2 separate regions of the Homo sapiens genome follow, and region 2 is linked to region 1. The links come from fine-mapping of genetic effects on gene expression. A gene starts in region 1. The other region holds a variant in brackets. All regions are shown on one strand. Distances are from middle to middle. Region 1 holds the start of MAN2C1 (mannosidase alpha class 2C member 1). Region 2 holds the start of SIN3A (SIN3 transcription regulator family member A).

Evidence for each region. PIP is the estimated chance that this variant, and not a neighbour inherited with it, causes the effect.
Region 2: its variant is fine-mapped to the expression of MAN2C1 in whole blood (INTERVAL, PIP above 0.99).

The regions. Positions count from the first base shown.
Region 1 is chr15:75,363,941-75,373,697 of GRCh38, reverse strand. MAN2C1 (mannosidase alpha class 2C member 1) reads left to right here and starts at 5,091. Exons shown (of 26, transcript NM_006715.4): 1 at 5,091-5,215; 2 at 5,500-5,625; 3 at 6,064-6,187; 4 at 7,106-7,176; 5 at 9,033-9,210; 6 at 9,510-9,699. The coding sequence starts at 5,115. It overlaps SIN3A (SIN3 transcription regulator family member A), which reads left to right. Exons shown (of 21, transcript NM_001145358.2): 21 at 1,489-4,319. The coding sequence ends at 1,719. RefSeq lists enhancers at 4,916-5,210, 4,895-5,214, 4,786-5,318 and a silencer at 5,345-5,424.
Region 2 is chr15:75,444,733-75,454,241 of GRCh38, reverse strand. It overlaps SIN3A (SIN3 transcription regulator family member A), which reads left to right and starts at 2,552. Exons shown (of 21, transcript NM_001145358.2): 1 at 2,552-2,819. RefSeq lists enhancers at 1-57, 1,137-1,668, 1,898-1,947, 3,658-3,787, 3,215-4,134 and 3 more and silencers at 2,588-2,687, 2,908-3,407. The variant T/C (reference allele first, on the strand shown) is at 4,537.

The DNA of each region.
Region 1 (9,757 bases):
GTTCAAACAACCCACCCATTTCAGCCTCCTAAAGTGCTGGGATTACAGGCGTGAGCCACTGTGCCCAGCCTATACTGTATATTCTTACAATAAAGTAAGTTAGAGAAAAGAAAATGTTAAGTCATAAGCAAGAGAAGATACATTTACTCTTCATTAAGTGGTTGTGGCTCATCATAAAGGGTCCTTATTCTCATCTTGTTGAGTAGGCTGAAGAGGGAGGAGGAAGGGAGGGGTTGTTTTTGCTGTCTCAGGGTTGGCAGAGGTGGAAGAAAACTTGCCTATCAGTGGCCCTGCGCTGTTCAAAGCTGTGTTGTTCAAGAGTCTGCTCTACTTCTCTCATGGCACTGAGGGAAGCGCAGTGGCATGATTTCAGCTCACTGCATCCTCCACTTCCCGGGTTCAAGAGATTCTCTTGTCTCAGCCTCTCGAGTAGCTGGGATTACGGGCGTGCACCACCACACCTGGCTCATTTTTTTTGCTATGTGTTGTGTGTCTGCCTGTCTCTGATTCACATTATTTGGGACACTGGGCAACACCAGTTTTGTCTTTGTATCTCTTCTAGTATCCTTGCATGTGGACACCAATAAATTTTTATTGAATGTGTTGGTGGGAACAGAACCCCCTGCAGAACATCTGCCAAGCCTGGACTCTGCTTCCCAGGGTGGGGTAACACAGTGGAGGGAGAGTGGTTTTAAGCCCTTTGCTTTGCACTGTCTGGCTTAGAGGTGGATCTCCATGCTGATAGAAGTGATCAATGGCTCACTGGGTCCTACCCAGGATACATTAGAATCAGCTGGATTGCTGGTTTAAAATGCACATTGGTAAACCAAGGAAATGTGGGTTTTGGGGGTTTTGGGTTTTTTTTTTTTTTTTTTTTGGAGACAGGGTTTGGCTCTGTCATCTAGGCTGGGGTGCGGTGGTGCGATCTTGGCTCACTGCAGCCTCCACCTCCTGGCTCAAGCGATCCTCCCACTTCAGCCTACCAAGTAGCTGGGACTACAGGTGTGTGCCACCACGCCCAGTTATTATTTGTATTTTTGTAGAGATGGGGTTTTGCCATGTTGCCCAGGCTGGTCTCAAACTCCTGAGCTCAAGCGAACTGCCTGCCTCAGCCTCCCAGAGTACTAGGATTACAGGCATGAGTCACTGCACCTGGTCAGAAATGTGTATTTTTTAACACATTCCCTCGGTTATACTAACGCATGCTAAAATTGAGAACAGCGAGCTTTTTCAGCCCAGAGCCTGTGTTCGCATTTCTTTGGAGGCTTTATGGATTTTCATGCCCTCACATGTTCTATGTTCTTACCTCTTTAACTTCTCTTTAAACAGAGAATCCTTTTTTTTTTCTTTTAAGAAAAAAACAGTGGTATCTAAGACTTGAGCCCACATCTTTCCTTTGCTCCTTTAGAAGAAAATTAGGCTTTGTATTTGAAGGGCTCTTTTTTGGTTCTGCTTCATTTAATAAAATTTTTTTTTTCTGTTTTGCAGTCCCATGAGCGTGTAAGCAAGCGTCTACATCAGAGATTCCAGGCCTGGGTAGATAAATGGACCAAGGAGCATGTGCCCCGTGAAATGGCAGCAGAGACCAGCAAGTGGCTCATGGGTGAGGGGCTGGAGGGCCTGGTGCCCTGTACCACCACCTGTGATACAGAGACCCTGCATTTTGTGAGCATTAACAAGTATCGTGTCAAATACGGCACAGTATTCAAAGCCCCTTAACTGCAAAGCCAGAGCAGATAACTTGGGGTGTGTGTGGGGATGTGTGTGTGGGCCTATGCACTCACACACTGAAGAAACAAGGAAGATGCCTTTCAAGCCTCACTGGGCCTCTCTGGGACATGGCCACCTGACCTGTGTGTGGCTGGTGCAGCCTGGCACCAAGTGGGCTACCTGTTAGGAACATGAATACCTTACAAAGCTGAAGCTGGAACTTTTCCCAAAGGGTTTTGGGTATAGCCTGCCCTGGAGGGGAAGGAAGTCCATGCAAGCAAAGACATGCAGTTTGCTTGCACACACCAGCAGAGCTAAGACTGGAGTCTCCTGTGGCCTAACTTTCAATGAGGGAACCGGATGCTGTTCACACTTTGACTGGATGGAGATGCATTTACAAAACAGACTGGAGAAGGACTTAATACTCAGATGGATTGGAACTATCATGGTCACTGCTCCTCTCCCCTCCCCACAAAAGGAAAAAAAAGCTGGATTTGATTTTTTTTTTCTGGTCACTCGAGCACATCTAAGATCACCCATTAGGTTTTATCTGGGACCTGCAGTTTGGCTTTGGGATTGATCATCTTGTGGATTTTATTCCTGACGATTCCCTTGCTGCCTACCCTTTTCTCTCCTCTGGTTCTCAACCTCAACGAGTTCAAATCAGTTGTCCTTTTTAGCTCCCGTGGAACTGTTTTGTATCTGCCTCTTTACTAGTCTACCTTAGTGCCATCCACCAGCTTTACTCTCTGACACACACACGCACACACACACACAATTTTAACTTGTTTTTTTGTACATAATGTACATACTGTCAATTTTTTATTAAAAGAAATATGCTTTGATGTGCTAGCATAACTGCTCTAGCTTCTTGTGTACCATAGTACTGTGGCTTCAGATTTAGTACCTATGAACAGATGTACAAGACATTTATTACACTTTTTACCAAAGGGAGTTACCATTGTAGTACTTTTGTGTAAAACTTGTCTTCCCCTTTGCCCCCAACTTTTTTTTTTTTTTTTTTGTAAATAAATAAAGCTTGGTTCTTACTTAAGGAATAAACTCTCAACCCACGTCCCTTGTCCTCACCAGAAAATACTGTGAAGCAGGGATTTTGACTTCAGTTCCTTATCCAGGGTAGAAACAGGATTTTGCTTAAAATACTTGTTACTTGTCCCAAATCAAAATATTCCAAAATCTTAGAATACTTAAGTCTTTTAGTACGTGTTTTTTTCCCTTGTTCAAATAATCTGAAAATATTTTATATTTGGGTAAGTTGTCAAGCTATGTAGTTTGTATTTCTATATATTTTTTCTTATTCACATTGGTGATGGATGGGGGTGAGCAACTTAAATACCAAACCAGTGTTTGAAAAAAAAGTGTGCATAAGGCATGTGGTATACCTTATAAATGGAGTTGGGAGGGAGAGAATTTGAAATGGGATACCTATTTTTTTAATTACATAAATTTAAACTAGCAGACATTTAAACATGAATGATTAGGATTTTTCTATGTGGTTAACCTGGACTTTCTGAACAAAGACCAACTGAGCCCCTCCCAGTACTCTGGTGGATTTTTCTTCAGCAACCATTACGCAAGTCTTAGTTGTAACCAGCAATGTTCTGTGTGTTTTATGTTTGCTTTTTAGTTAAAAATCACCACCACCACCAAAAAGAAAAACAAAATTTTTTGGCTCCTGGATTTTCAAAACACATGGTAGACCTCTCTGATTTTAGGCTTTTATTGTTTAAAGACAGTGTCTCGCTTTATGACCCACACTGGAGTGCAGTGCCACGATCATAGCTCACTGCAGGCTTGACCTCCCAGGCTCAAGCAGTCCTCCCACCTCGGCCTCCTGAGTAGCTGCATGCCACCACGCCCAGCTAATTTTTTAACTTTTTGTAGAGACAGGGTCTTGCTATGCTGCCCAGGTTGGTCTCAAACTCCTGGCCTCAAGCTGTCCTCCCACCTCGGCCTCGCAAAGTGCTGAGATTACAGGTGTGAGCCACCCTGGCCTGATTTTAGGCTTTTTTTGTACTGGGGAGAAGAGACTGTGAGCCAAAGTGTAGGGTGCCAAAAAGAGCTTTGTGGGATGAGATTTTAGGGCAAAGCTGGGGCAGTGTCTGACTTGGCGGTGGTCATGTGTACTGATTTAGGGGAAAGATCTTGAGGTTTTCTCAAATAATTCACCTATCCCCGTGTTCCCTCAAGAAAGGTCATGTTGACCTGGAACCATAGGGGAAATTGGTGGGGTGTGATCAGGGTCAGCCCCAGCTGTTGCTGCCCCTGCAGTGTTTTGTCCAGAGCACTTGCCTGCAGGTCAGGATAGGATTTCAAGGCCAGTTCAGGAGAAAGTCCCAACCCACCAGTGCAACCAACAAAAGAGTAAGTTTTACCTACAGCCTGGGTTTTCACAAGTAGCATTTTTATTCCTCCTGCTGTCTGACATCTGAGCTCCAAGCTCTAAACCCAACCTGTATTATATGCAGCAGCAGGTTATCTTTGTTTTAAATCACATTTGTTATTCTGTACTTAGTCACCTTTCCGTGTGATCTGCATTTGAAATGTTGTAAACTTGGTCAGTATTTCCATTAAAATATCAGGGCTAATCTTGTGTATTTTTTTTTGTTCCTAATGATTTTATAGACAAAGACTCTTGGCAACCCCAGGAGAAAAAAAATAAAGCTGTCAGTGGAGTACTAGGGATGAGAATGAAACTGGAGGTCTGTTTCTGGTATTATGGCTTCCCGGGACTCTACAGTCCTGTATGGTGAAATACATTTTTCCATTGGGATCGTCAATGCCATGACTGTTCTGCCACCTCAAACTCCAGAGTTTCTGGTGATGTGCAAGAGTTAGCAATATACATTCAGTAAAGCGTGTAATCGAGTAAGTCGTAGTAACTTGGGCGTAAAGCTCTACCACCCTGCTCACTAACACCCTGATCTCCGTCCGGTATGAAAACACCTATTCCGGGTAGTCTGGCTCCACGTTAAGCAAACACCACTTTCCGTGTTCACCGACAGCTAGAGCCAGAGGTCTCCCGGTTGCTGCTTCTGAGGCTGGGTCTGCAGCAGCTGAGGCTCCCGCCTGTCTTGCCGAATGGCCTAAGTCTCTGTCTTGAGACTTTCGAGAGTTCTAATCGTCAAATTTCCCATTTTATTTTGAGATTTTCCCTGCGGCCCACTATTTCGGACAACATAGGAGAGCCTCAAAAACAGTTTCTAGCTTCCAACTCGGCTCAAAGTTCAGACAGCAGCTGGGCTTCCGAGAGCCGCCGGTGTTCCAAGAAAAGCTGCCCGGGACTGGGAGGCGCCCTCTGGACGCCGGAACCTTTGGTTTCCTGCCGTGGAGCGGAACGGTAGCGCCAGGGGCCTTCCGGAAAGAGGAGCGAGAGCCCGGCGATGGCGGCTGCGCCGGCCTTGAAGCACTGGCGCACCACGCTGGAGCGGGTGGAGAAGTTCGTGTCGCCGCTCTACTTTACCGACTGTAACCTCCGCGGCAGGTGTGGCCCCTGGTCCCCCGCAGCCGGCCGACCGCAACCGTGCGCCTCAAGCTTTCCTTCCGGGGAGAAACCTAAGCTGCAGCCACCCGGGCCGCGGGACAAAGTGCCCGCCGCGGGCAGGGCAGGGGCCGGGGAGGAGGGGGTAGGGAATGGACTGTGCCGCGGAGCGGCCAGGCAGCCCTCTTGGCGGAGGATCCAGGGAAAGTGCGGCCCCACCGGCCAGCTGGCCCCCAGGCGGAAACGGGGCGGCCTCCAGCATGTGCCCACCGGCCCGTCCCACGCAGGCTTTTTGGGGCCAGCTGCCCTGTGGCTGTGCTCTCCAGCTTCCTGACGCCGGAGAGACTTCCCTACCAGGAGGCAGTCCAGCGGGACTTCCGCCCCGCGCAGGTCGGCGACAGCTTCGGACCCACGTAGGTAACGCCCAGCGGGTGGGCGGGGCCACAGGCCTAGGGGAAGTCCCAACCCAGCTCCCAGCCACACCTTCGTTGTCTGCCCTCTGCCGTAGACAACTACGTGGGATCGAGCAGCACCCTCTGCTGGGAGCAGCACCCTCTGCTGGGAACAGCTCTCTGGTCCCTGGGTCTTCAGGGGATGGTTTTCATTCCCACGTGGCCGCCTCTGGACATCCCTTAGGAAGGGCACCCTAGGGATCACGAACCTTTGACGCCTCTGCCTGTTTCCCTCATCTTGCTTCTCACCTTGTTGCTCCTTTCTTGTGACTCAAAGCTGAGTACCTTGTGACACTGCAGATGCTTGGAGAGTTTCAAGCCCCTGCCGACACTTTATCCAAGGAAGGATATCAGGATAGGACTTCTACCTCTAGGCCTATCACAACAGCTCTCTTGCAGATGGTGGACCTGCTGGTTCCGGGTGGAGCTGACCATCCCAGAGGCATGGGTGGGCCAGGAAGTTCACCTTTGCTGGGAAAGTGATGGAGAAGGTCTGGTGTGGCGTGATGGAGAACCTGTCCAGGTGAGGAACCCTGTCCTAGGGCCAGGTATGGCCACATTTCAGCCCTGAAATGACTACAGCCCTTCTTCTGTGGACTCTGGAGAAGCCACAGCTGAGTTGCTCTGCCCACAGGGTGGTATCAGGATTTCAGGACTAGGGAAGTTGCCACTTGGGCATCTGTGCAATTGGTCCTTAGTTTTTATTGTGTATAATACAAACTTATAGGAAAACATTTCAAACAGTTCTAGATAAAGTAATGGATCTCTCCTTATCACCCATCCCATTCCCCAGCTATAACCACTGTTAAGTGTCTTATTCATGCTCCACCCTTATCAGGTTTAGTCCTTATACTCCTATCTAGTAGGTCTTTATACCCATTTACAAATTAAGAAACAGATGTGTAGTTGACTCACTCAGGTTCACACAGCTTCTATTTCAAATTGGACTGACTCTCAATCTGGGGTTAAGACTGTTCTTCCTGGCTACAAGAAGGCAGAGACCATCCCTTCCTCCCTTCACTGGCTCAGCAAATATCTCCTGGTGTCCATTCTGGGCCATACCCTTAAGCACTAGGGTGTAGCAGGGAATGAGGCAAACCTGCCCCTGACTTCACGGAGTTTCTTTCCCGGTATTTATTTAGGGGTGCAGAGGCCACCAGAATCCACACTCAGGCTGCCTAACCCCTTCCCAGGGCCCTTCCCATAAGACCATGGGTTTGCCACTGGTAAACAGGGGCTATTTGACGGTCATGGTGCTGGCTGCCATGGGAGTTGGGGCATCTACTGCCAAGGGTCCCTGATTTGCCAATCTTGGCCCTGCTTGGGAGAGAGGACCCAGAGCTGGGAACCAGATGGAGGGGCCTGACTCCCCATGGCTTACACTTTACCTGAACTGTCCAAAAGCCTCAAGCCTTGTCTCTCTCACTCCCCTCCCTACTAGGGTTTAACCAAAGAGGGTGAGAAGACCAGCTATGTCCTGACTGACAGGCTGGGGGAAAGAGACCCCCGAAGGTGAGTCCCTGTGCCCTGGTTGACCAGTGCTGTCAGGGAGGGAGTACCAGTGAGCAAGGAGGAGCTGAGGCCCAGAGTGATCTCATAAGCCCGCCTCTGCTCTAGCACAATCATCCTCACATCTCATTGTTTGCTTTTAAAAGCATGATTTTTTCCTAACCATAAAAATAATGGGCTGGGTGCAGTGACCCACACTACCCTGGGAGGCTGAGTGGGAGGATCACCTGAGCCCAGGAGGATGAGGCTGCAGTGAGCCATGATCACACCGCTGCACTGCAGCCTGGGCAACAGAGTGAGACCTTGTCTCAAAAATAATAGCAATGTTTGCCTGTGGTAAATACAGGAAAGCACAAAGAAGTAAATAACTACCGTTATTCCACTCCCTAGAATAGAGATGAACATTATTAACATCTCAGCATTCATGTTCTTTTTTTTGAGACGAAGTCTCCCTCTGTCGCCGATGCTGGAGTACAGTAGCACGATCGCAGCTCACTGTACCTTCTGCCTCCCAGGTTCAAGCGATTCTCATGCCTCAGCTTCCCGAGTAGCAGGGATTACAGGTGTGTGCCACCACGTCCAGCTATTTTTTTTTTATTTTTGGTAGAGAAAGGGTTTCACCGTGTTGGCCAGGCTACTCTCAAATTCTTGACCTCAGGTTATCCGCCCCTCTCAGCTTCCCAAAATGCTGGAATTACAGGCGTGAGCCACCGCACCTGGCCCAGTATTCATGTTCTTGGTGTATCTTTCCGGCATAGTTTTTTTTGTTTTTTCGGGGGGGTTTTTTTGGATTTTTTTGAGACGGAGTTTCGCTTTTGTTACCCAGGCTGGAGTGCAATGGCACGATCTCGGCTCACTGCGACCGCCGCCTCCCAGGTTCAAGCAATTCTCCTGCCTCAGCCTCCCTACTAGCTGAGATTACAGGTGCCCACCACCATGCCCAGCTAATTTTTTGTATTTTTAGTAGAGACGGGGTTTGACTCTGTTGGCCAGGCTGGTCTCAAACTGCTGACCTCAGGCTATCCACTTGCCTGAGTCTCCCAAAGTGCTGGGATTACAGGAATGAGCCACCGTGCCCGGCTCATCCCGGTATAGTTTTTACTAGTTAAGATTGTATCCTGACTTCTTACATTCCATGTTATAACATGGACATTTTATGACACCATTAAAAACACTTCTTAGACATTATGAATGTATTTTATATAGATTGACACTGTTTCAGATGCTTTCAGACACTGGGAGTATGGTGGTGAATAAAATAGCCCTTGCCAACAAAGGGAGACAGATTCACTCATATAATTACAAAACTGAGGGCTCTGGAAGGAAATCCTGGGTACTCCACTGAGGAATTTGCTCTAGACTTAGCAGCGAAGTGGAGTCAGGAAGGCCTCCCTAAGGAAGTCGTGTTTGCTCTCTGAAGCCTAAGTATGGCATCACCACAGCCCAGCCTGTTCTCCAATGAATGGCCCGCCCATGTTGGCCGTGTTGGTTTTAGATCTTGGGTCTAAAAGTTTGAGCCTGGGAGATCCGAACATGATTTTAATATGCAAAGAGGGTTCCAAGACCAAGGCAGTGCTTTGCAAAGACAACTTTGGAAATATAAGACTAAACAGCAGCGTACTTTACATGGTTCCAAACTTTGCTACTTATTCTCTCTGACAGCAAGACATGGGATCCATCTGGTGTTTGTACCACAACCCTCCCACATGCACTCTTGTCACACTGTGGGATCCTCTGGGTAGTGGATCCTGGAAGCAGACAGGTTGGGCTCAGCTGGATGCCTCCTGGGTGCCCCTTCCCCAAGTCCCCGGAGTACTGTGCCAGTCCCTTAGCCTGAGGCTGTCTCCCCATCTTTGTAGCCTCACTCTCTATGTGGAAGTAGCCTGCAATGGGCTCCTGGGGGCCGGGAAGGGAAGCATGATTGCAGCCCCTGACCCTGAGAAGATGTTCCAGCTGAGCCGGGCTGAGCTAGCTGTGTTCCACCGGGATGTCCACATGCTCCTGGTGGATCTGGAGCTGCTGCTGGGCATAGCCAAGGTACTTGACACCCCCTGTACCCCCTGCTACCCTCTAGAGCCCTGCTCCAAGAAGGTTGTTCTTTGGGTCAGATAAATGGGACTCTGGGAATCCAGAGTAGGACGAGGGTTTCCACCTGCTTGAGGGTTGAGAGAATTTTCCTATGTGAAGGGGAGGAGGGAGACGGTGCTGAGCAGGGGGACCAGCAGGGAAAAAGGGTTGGGGGTCAGGGGAGCTCTGCTGAGAGCCCTGAGATCAGTGGAGCCTAGGTCTGGAAGCTGTGCTTGAAAAAGGGATTAAGGGGCAGAACCCTGCTGCAGGGCCTCGGGAAGGACAACCAGCGCAGCTTCCAGGCCCTGTACACAGCCAATCAGATGGTGAACGTGTGTGACCCTGCCCAGCCCGAGACCTTCCCAGTGGCCCAGGCCCTGGCCTCCAGGTTCTTTGGCCAACATGGGGGTGAAAGCCAACACACCATTCATGCCACAGGGCACTGCCACATTGATACAGGTAGGACAGCAGCTGGTTGGGCTGGCTGGGGAAGCAGGAGTGCCCTTGAAGACCTGGA
Region 2 (9,509 bases), 81 kb before region 1:
ATGTGGATTGGATGACATTCTCCCGAGCTCCGCCTATCGGGAGGCCGGGCTGGAGTTTAAGTTGCTAGGATTTTTTTTTCGCGGAGGGAGGAGGGACGGTTCTTGCGGATGACGTGAGGCGCAAGGTCCCGCCCCCGCCTCTGATTGGTGGGGCGGGTAGCCCGGCCTCCTCCGGCGGAGAGAGCTGGGAGGGGAAGTCCACCCTTGCTCCCCGCCTCCCTCCGCTCTTGAGCGCGCTCCGCACATGTGTGAGGCCCGCCTAGCTCCTTCGAACTGCCCTCCCGCCCGGAAGTCCTAGGCTCGGCGCCCTTGGCGAGGGGGGCGGGGAGAGCCGAGAAGCCACACAAAGGTTCCACCGAGGCTCGAGACCTAGTAGCCTTCGGGGTGAAGCCAGGGGATTACAGTGCGGAGTGGATTTCGGGAGCGAAACTCCGGAGGTTCTGCTGGGTTTGAGATCTGCCTTTCGGGGCCGGGGCCAAGTACTAAAGTTCTAACCCTGTCGCTTGGCTATTTCCGTGCCCCTTGACTTCCCTGAGCTTAAGCTCGAGAACTCTGCAGACGCTGCAAGTGTCTGTTCTTTCCTAGGCATGGCAGCGGCTGTCCTTAGTTGGCTGTATCTGAGACTCTGACAACCTAGTGCCCTGGCCTGGGGCCCTTAGGCGAGATCTTAGCGCAGGTGGTACCCTGTGTTCACGGGAAGTCGTGGGCGGCCTAATGCTGGCTTGGGTTCTGAGTAGTTCTTGATACCATGGTGGGAATGCCCTGTGGTACTCAGTCTAGTGGTGGAAGGCGGCGCAAAGTTAAAAGTAGCCGTGGGTCAGTTCTGCTGGAGTGCCGCTTCCTCCTAACCTCCGAGCAGTTTGGCCCTGGGGTCGCTTCGTTGGTCTGACTTATTTTTAGAGCTCTGTCCTGGGGCAGGGCTTGGCTACTGGCGAGGCTGCTCCCACCTGTCGGCTACCCTTGGAGTTCACAATTCGCTGCTGTGGTTTCGCGGCTCGAAGCCATCGCTGGAGTCAGGCCCACCTGCTGCCAGAGCTCGTTCCTGGCCGTTTCCGCTGGATTGCAGAGGGAGGACAGTGTTGGACCTAGGCGTGGGTTCCCTGGGCGTGTCCCTTGGGGTCTTAGCTCTCTGGGAGGAGGGTTCTACTTATTCGGGAGAGCGGTAACAACGTAATCCCGTCACCTCTCCTGGCGCTGAGAGAGCGCCCCCCAAAGTAAGATCAGCGTCAGGCCCACGCCCTATTTGGTGAATAAATAAAAGCAAACTAGGAATTGAAAGCACTTTGTCTCACTGTGTGTTCGAGGCACTGTTACCTACACAGAGAGGGCACAGGAACTGCTATTAACACTCCCGGCCAAGGAGAAGGTGAACAGCCGTTATCTTATGTCCCCAACTACGGAAATTTTATCCATTCTCTGAGTGTGGCATGTCCCCAATGTTAATTTATGCCGTGGCCTGTTTTGGTGTTTTCCTCTCCTTTCTCAGTTCTGAGGATGCCTCCAGATCCACCCGGGAGATCGTGAGTACCTTGTGCCTCACGCTCCGCCTTCCGGAGGCTTGCCAGGGCGGTGGCTGTTAGAGCCCGCCTCTCTTTTGGTTATCTCCGCCCTCTTAGGACTGCATATTCAGCTCTAGGGAGTTTACTTCTCCGCCTAGGTCTCCAGACCTTAGTTCTGTACTCTACTTGGCTGAAAGGAGTTGCCAGCTGCTCCGGATATTTGTGTTTACAAGGACGCAGTGTGTAGAATGTAAACTGTAAAGATAACTGGACGGAAGGATGAGTTCTCATTCTCTCATTTTTTTTGTGAGGGAGTCCTCCATGGTGGGCTGCCTTTCCTTCAAATCCTAGGATGTGGAGTCTCCGCTGATGAGCTCCGCTCCCCCTCCTATCTCGGGCCCTGGAACTCCGAGCTTCAGTCTCTAGTGTAAACATTCCACAAAAGGACTGCTAAGGTTCAGCCTCCTCGCGCAGGGTGGAATTAGCTCCTTCCTAGACGGGCGCCCTGGCCAATGGAGGGTCCTACCAGCGCCAAGATATCCAATCCGACTCTTGGGGCGGGGCCTGGCCCGGCAGTGCGGTAGGCGGAGCCTGTTTCACTTACAGACATTTTACCCCACATCGGTTACTTACCTTACTGGGGCGGTGGGAGAGCCAGGGGTAGCCTTCCAATGCGATGACCAGCGGAGGCGGGAGCCAACTTGTTAGGCCTGTGGCTGAGACGCTGCAGGGCGGGTTATGTGGTGTCCTCCAATGAGACAGGAAGAGCTTCCCTGCTTCCTCCAATAGTGTTGGGGCTCGGGGGTGGGCTTCAGCAGTCCGTCTCCAATAGGCGGGGTTGAGTTAGGGAAGCTCCCCGCCAATAGGGGCGTGGAGAAGGAGAGCGGCTCCCCCTCCCCTACCAGTCGAGGGGGAAGGGGCGGGAAAATCATAAGACAGGCCTCGGTGGTTGGCTGAGTCTTTGACGGGCGGGTATTGCGTCCTGTATTGGAACGAAGCTGAGTCTTCCCTCTGCGGGGCGGGGTCGGGGGAGTGGGCGGGATTTCCCGGGTAACAGAGAAGCGGCCGCGGCGGTAGAGGCGGCGGAGACGGTTTCTCCATCTTCCCCCCTCCCCTTCCCCCCTCGGAGTTTCCCTCCCTCCCTCCCTCCCTCCTTCCCAGTCTGGGCACCGGAGCCTGTGACCGCTTCGTTAGTGGAGAGGTAGCTGGCAGTCCGCTTCGGCGGGCCTGTGCCCCGCGCCGTTCTCGGGGCCTCCCTGCTGAGCTCGCGGCTCACGCTGAGAGGGACACGCAGTGACGAGCGGCCGAAGCAGCTTTGCGGTGAGAGCACGCTGGGCCGGGGGCCGGGCGGGAGCCTGGTGGCGGGTAACGCCGGACTCGAGGGTGTGTATTTTGGGGGGGGGGGGCTGACCTCCTCGGCTTCCCGTAGAGCAGACGGGCGGGAGGTGTGTGGTTGTGTGAGGGGGGTGGGGGGCGGAGCGGGGTAGCTCTCCGCGCGGGAGGGGGAGGAGAGCGTAGTCCCGGTGCGCGCGGAGGGGGGCGGGCTCTCGCGCCGCCGCTCAGAGGCGGGGCCGGCGCGCGCGTGCGATTGTGGAGAAAGGGGCGGGGCCGGCTTCGCGCTGAGTGCAGTTTGCGGCCGACCACCCCCTCCCCTCCTCCTGGGGTGGGCGGGGCCTCGGGCTGGCGGCCGCGCTCTGGCCTGCTGGGGTCGGGGAGGGGTAGGGGGGGGTCTCCCGCGTGTAGATTCAGGGCGCGGCAGGGAGGGGGCGTGAAGTCTGAGTTCCTCCGCCTTCTTGGGATCCGGTTGGCCGGAGGGGCCGTACTGATCCGTGATGCCACTCCCCTTGGCCGTCCCCCCCTGCACCCCGCCCAGGCCCCGGGTTTCCGCCTCCTTGGCAATGAGGAGGTGCTAGGGAAAGCCCGCTGTCGGGTCTGGCTGGGAGTCTCGGCGCCTAGATCTGCCCCGCCCTATGTCTCCGTGGGGAGGGAGGGGCACCCGCCGACTGGGAGCTGTGGAGGTGTCAGGACTTACTCTTGTGGCTGGGTCATGCCTTCTGCCTGGGGGCACAAGGGCCCTGTGCCGGAGCTGCTTTCTCCGCTTTGCTCCATGCAGCGTGTCTGGCACCGTGCAGCCAGGAGAGTGGGAGCATGGTCACCCCCACTCCCCTCTTGGTTGTAACTATTGGGGCGAAGTGCCCAAGGTCCTCTTGTAGGAGCGTGCGTGGCTGGTGCTGGAACCCTAGATCCGCGGTGGTGATGGTAGGGGAGGGGCAGGGAGTCATCAGAGACTAGAAATGTGGCGGAGGGAAAACCTTCCCTGGGGTTCCCTTGATGTTCAGTTACCGTGGCTGTACGGGGCGGGGCTTCCTTTGAGCCAATGGGTGGTGGGTAGTAGACTTGGCGTCTGTTTCGGTGCGTTAGGACTTTAAACGAAGTTAGCCTTGAAAAGGCAGTGGAAGCTCCTCCTCTTTACAAGGCTGAGATTTATAACAGGAAAGTTTGGATTTACATTTTAATCTCAAAACTGGTCTGTTTATAAAGTAGGGTTTGTTTTTTTTTTTTAAGAACTCAGACTTTGAATAAAATACTCCGATATCTCTGACAGTTGTATTTTTGAATGCTTTCATTGTGCACATGGTTCTGCTATATAAACTTAGTTTCCTGGACGGGCGCGGTGGCTCATGCCTGTAATCCTAGCACTTTGGGAGGCCGAGGCAGGTGGATCACTTGAGGTCAGGAGTTCGAGACCAGCCAGGCTTACATGGCGAAACCCTGTTTCTACTAAAAATACAAAAAAAAGCTGGGCGTGGTGGCAAGCGCCTGTAATCCCAGCTACTGGGGAGGCTGAGGCAGGAGAATCACTTGAACCCGGGAGGCGAGGGTGCAGTGAGCCGAGATGGTGCCATTGCACTGTAGCCTGGGCGACAGGAGCAAAACTCCGCCTCAAAAAACAACCAAAAAAACTTGGTTTCCTAAAGAATTTGCTATTTAGGTAACTATAGGTGAAAAGTCTTTTCTTTTTTATTTTATGTACTTA[T/C]GTTAGACCATCTAGACCACTTTCTATTTATACTCTACATAGTACAGTGTTGTTGCCCTTTTTATTTCAGAGGAGGGTGGAATTGTGGATCAGGGTAGCCTTCTGTATGTGACTTCTGTAGCGTTGCCCTCCAGCCTGTATTGGAGAGTTGCCTTAGGGCATTTCAGATTTAGATAGCAGAACCACATTAGATGAGGTTTTTGCTTTCACTTGATACATTATCTTTTCCTATTGAGAGAAATTATTTCAATGTTTTTCACATTTTTCATGAGAAAAATAAACATGGAACCAATGTTTATTTATGCAGTAATGTCTAAATGAGCCTCTGGTTAATTATCTGAAGTGAAATTCTAGATTTGTGCTTTGGTTAGTAGGGCCTGAGTGGTACCCTGTGCTATATTTATGTGAAAAGGGTAGGTGGGTCCTACCTTCTCTGCTAAGGAAGTTGCAAAAGCAATAGCATTTTAGTTTAGCAAATGATGGCTGTAATAGAATTGGTGGGGAGACAAAAAATCCAGGTGGTTTTTTCTGATGCCATAAACTGAGAGAGATAGTGGAGAACGATTGACCATTGAGGAAAATTTGGGCTACATATATAGTTCCCATGATTTGCAGTGCTGTATACTGGGGAACACAGAAGAGTCTATAAGGATTCAAGTAAGAACCTGGTTTTGCTGTATTAGGAACATTTTCATAAATGCTTCATAATCTCCAGATAATTATTTTATATACTATAATTTTGTTCAGAGATAAATAGCTTAGAAAGATTGGCACTTCGTAATTAAGAGGGTTTTAATAATTTACATACAGAGAAAGACTTTTTTTCTTTTTTAAGGAAGGAGGTGTGTAGTAATTTGACAAGATTCCTGGTGAAGTATAATTCTTTTTACATCTTCAGTGGGAGCAGACAAGACACTGGAGAGCTGTGCATGGCAGATGTTAGTACCTGGGAATTTTAACTGGAATTAAGAGGTTATATCCCTGGCATTCAGTAGTTTAGCATAGTGCTTTTCATGGCTTTCTCTCTTTTCTGGGCAATCCACCAGCCAAGAGTTTGTTAAGCTTTACTTTCTGTAGGCCTTTAAAAAAATAAATAGTATATGCTTTTTCAAAATACACCTTCCTCGCCCCTTGAAAAATAAAAGCTGATATTTATTGAGCACTTACTGTGTCACAGATACTGTGTTAGGCACTAGACTTTTTTTTTTTTTTGAGATGGAGTCCTGCTCTGTCTCCCAGGCTGGAGTGCAGTGGTGCAATCTCAGCTCACTGCAACTTCCGCCTCCCGGGTTCTAGCGATTGTCCTGCCTCAGCCTCCACGAAGAAGAAGCTGGGGCGCCACCACACGCCTGGCTAAGTTTTGTACTTTTGGTAGAGGCAGGGTTTCACCATGTTGATCAGGTTGGTCGCAGACTCCTGACCTCGTGATCCGCCCGCCTCAGCCTCCCAAAGTACTGGGATTACAGGCATGATCCACTGCACCCGGCCGCATAATGTCTTTTTTTCTCATGTCTTTTTTTTTTTTTTTTTAGACGAAGTCTCGCTCTGTCACCAGGCTGGAGTGCAGTGGCATGATCACAGCTCACTGCAGTGTTGATCTTCTGGACTTAAGCGACCCTCCTACCTTAGCCTCCCATGTAGCTGGGACTACAGGTGTGTGCCACCACGCACCTGGCTAATTTTTTTTATATTTTTATAGAGGTGAAGTCCTGCTGTGTTGCCCAGGCTGGTCTCGAACTCCTGGGCTCAAGAGGTCCTTCTGCCTCAGCCTCTCAAAAGTGCTAGGATTAAGACGTGAGTCACCGTGCCCGGTCATGGGTGGCAATTTCTACCTGATGTATTTCTTATTTGCCCCTTTTGCTTTTGTTTTCCCTACCCACTTTTTGTCTTGTATGCTTGTATGTTACCCATATTTCTCAGCATGACAGTGGACCCTTCATGAGTCTTCTTGGTGTCCTCCAGGGCTAGGCTTGCTGACATATGGGCTATTGGAGGATATGCAGGTCCACATCCTTTATTTGCAGTTCTGAAATGCAAGAGTTTTTGTTTTTTGGTAAGTCTAGTTCCACAACTAGTTTTGGGGTACAGCCTGACCTGGGCTATCCTGCATGATGCAGAAATGTGACTGCTTGATTATGGGGAGCTACTCAGCCCTAGCTGGGAGAGAGAGATGATACAGTATATGTACCATATTACCTTTCTAAAATCCAAACAATGCTGATGACTCTAACGGGGATCTCTCCCTCTACCATAGACTAATATGTTTAGTGGCCCACTCAAGGTCTCCACTCGATGTCTCCTCTTGGATAACTAAGAGACATTGTTGACTCTTCTGTGTCTTTTTCATATGTGGTCCATCAGTAAATTTTACTGCTTTATATTCAAAATACTATCCAGAATTAGACCACTTAGGATCTGCATCTCCACTGCCCTAGTCAGTGCCTGTGCATCTCTAGCTTGGATTCTATTCTCCTTGTTTTGTTACTGCGGCTCTTAAATGTGTTCTCAACATAGCAACCCAAGTGATTCTTTTGAAACCTAAGTCATACCGTGTCACTTCTCTGCTTAAAACCATCCAGTGGCTTTCCATTTCAGTCTGAGTATTAAACCTGAGTCCTTATTTAGATATGTCTGTAATGAGCTGGGCGCGGTGGCCCATGCCTGTAATACCAGCACTTTGGGAGGCTGAGGCAGGCGGATCACGAGGTCAGGAGATTGAGACCATCCTGGCTAACATGGTCTCCACTAAAAAAAATACAAAAGAGTTAGCCGGGCATGGTGGCACACGCACCTGTAGTCCCAGCTACTCGGGAGGTTGAGGCAGGAGAATGGTGTGAACCCGGGAGGTGGAGCTTGCAGTGAGCCAAGATCGTGCCACTGCACTCTAGCCTGGGCGACAGAGCGAGACTGTCTCAAAAGAAAAAAAAAAGGATATGTCTGTAATTTCACCATTTTGGGAGCTCAAGTGGGAGGATCGTTTGAGTCCAGGAGTTTGAGACCAGCTTGGGCATCATAACAAGACCCTGTCTCTATAAAAAAATTAAAAATTAGCCAAGCATGCTGGCGCGTGCCTGTAGTCCCAGTTACTTGAGAGGCTGAGGCAGGAGGATTGCTTGAGCTCAGGAGCTTGAGGCTGCAGTGAGCCATGACTGTGCCACTGCACCCCAGCCTTGACGACAAAATGAGACCCTGTGTCAAAAAATAAAAAAACACCTGTAAGAACAAATCTGATGTACCCTCTGCCTGCCACCCTTATCCTAGTACCTCTCTGACTACATTTCTGACTAGTCCTTCTTTCGTTTTTCTTCAGCTACCCAGCCTTCATGCTGTTTTGGAACATGTCAAGCACATGTGAGCCCTCACAAAGACATGAGGGTCTTTGCGGTTGCTGTCCCCTCTGCCTAGAAGGCTTCCTCCACTAATTTCTGCATGACTAGCTCCCTCACTTCCTTTACTCAGAAGTTACCTTATCAGTAGGTATTATCTGACCATTCTTATCTACAATTTCAAAAACTCTTCCTTGCCTTTTGTTCTTGATACCTGTCACTGCCTACTATTCTAAATATTATACTTTGTCTATTGTGTCATCTTTCACTAAAATATAAGCTTCTTGAGGGAAGAGATTTTTGTTTACCGTTGTATCTCCAGCTCCTAAAACACCTGGTGCATAGTATGTGCTCAGTAGATATTAGAGAATGTATACATGAATGAATGATTTGGTTTCCACCACAGACAAGACAAAGCAGTATGCTGAGCATGGTAGAGGATACATAGATGGTTAAAGATGTTATGTGCCCATGTTTGTGTGGGAGCAGAAGAGCTAATGTGATAAAAGCAGTGTGAGATGTGAGTGACACTTCCACCTGTCCTTTCAAGAACTATCTCAAGTTCTATTCTTTGTAATGCTCTATTTTCTTTTCTTTCTTTCTTTTTTTTTTTTTTTTTTCTTTTTTTTGAGACAAGGTCTCACTGTGTTGCCCAGGCTAGAGTGCAGTGGTACTATCTCGGCTCATTGCACACACACACATACACACACCCAGCTTCAAGTGATTCTCCTGCCTCAGCCTCCCGAGCAGCTGGGATTACAGGCATGCGCCACTACACCCAGCTATTTATTTATTTATTTATTTATTTTGAGACGGAGTTTTGCTCTGTCTCCCAGGCTGGAGTGCAGTGGTGCAATCTCGGCTTGGCACAATCTCAGCTCACTGCAACCTCCACCTCCTGGGTTCAAGTGATTCTTCTGCCTTAGCCTCCCGAGTAGCTGGGATTACAGGCACCCACCACCATGCCTGGCTAATTTTTTTTTTTTTTTTTTTTTTTTTGAGACAGTGTCTCGCTCTGTCGCCCAGGCTGGAGTACAGTAGCGCGATCTCAGCTCACTGCAATCTCCCCTTCCCAGGTTCAAGCAGTTCTCCTGTCTCAGCCTCCTGAGTAGCTGGGATCACAGGCGCCACCACCATGCCTGGCTAATTTTTTGTATTTTTAGTAGAGACAGGGTTTTACCACGTTGACCAGCCTTGTCTTGAACTCCTGGCCTCAGGCAATCCACCTGCCTTGGCCTCCCGAAGTGCTGGGATTACAGGCATGAGCCACTGCACCTGGCCTTATAGATATTTTGAAAGATTATATTTCTTATATTAAATAGAGATAGGGTCTTACCATGTTGCTCAGGCTGGTCTTCCTGGACTCAAGCAATCCACCTGCCTCAGACACCCAAAGTGCTGAGATTACAGGTGTTAGCCACCATGCCTGGCCTAATACTTAATTTTTAAAAAACTTTTTCTTTGGAAATAATTTTAGACTTCAAAGAGAGTTGCAAAAATAATACAAATAATAGCCCTATAATCTTCACCTAGATTCCCCAAGTGCATCTTTTAAAACCACAATACAGTGATCAAATCAGAAAATCAACATTGATAACAATTATTAATACATTTTGAATTTAACTAAATTTCTGTTCATTTTCTACC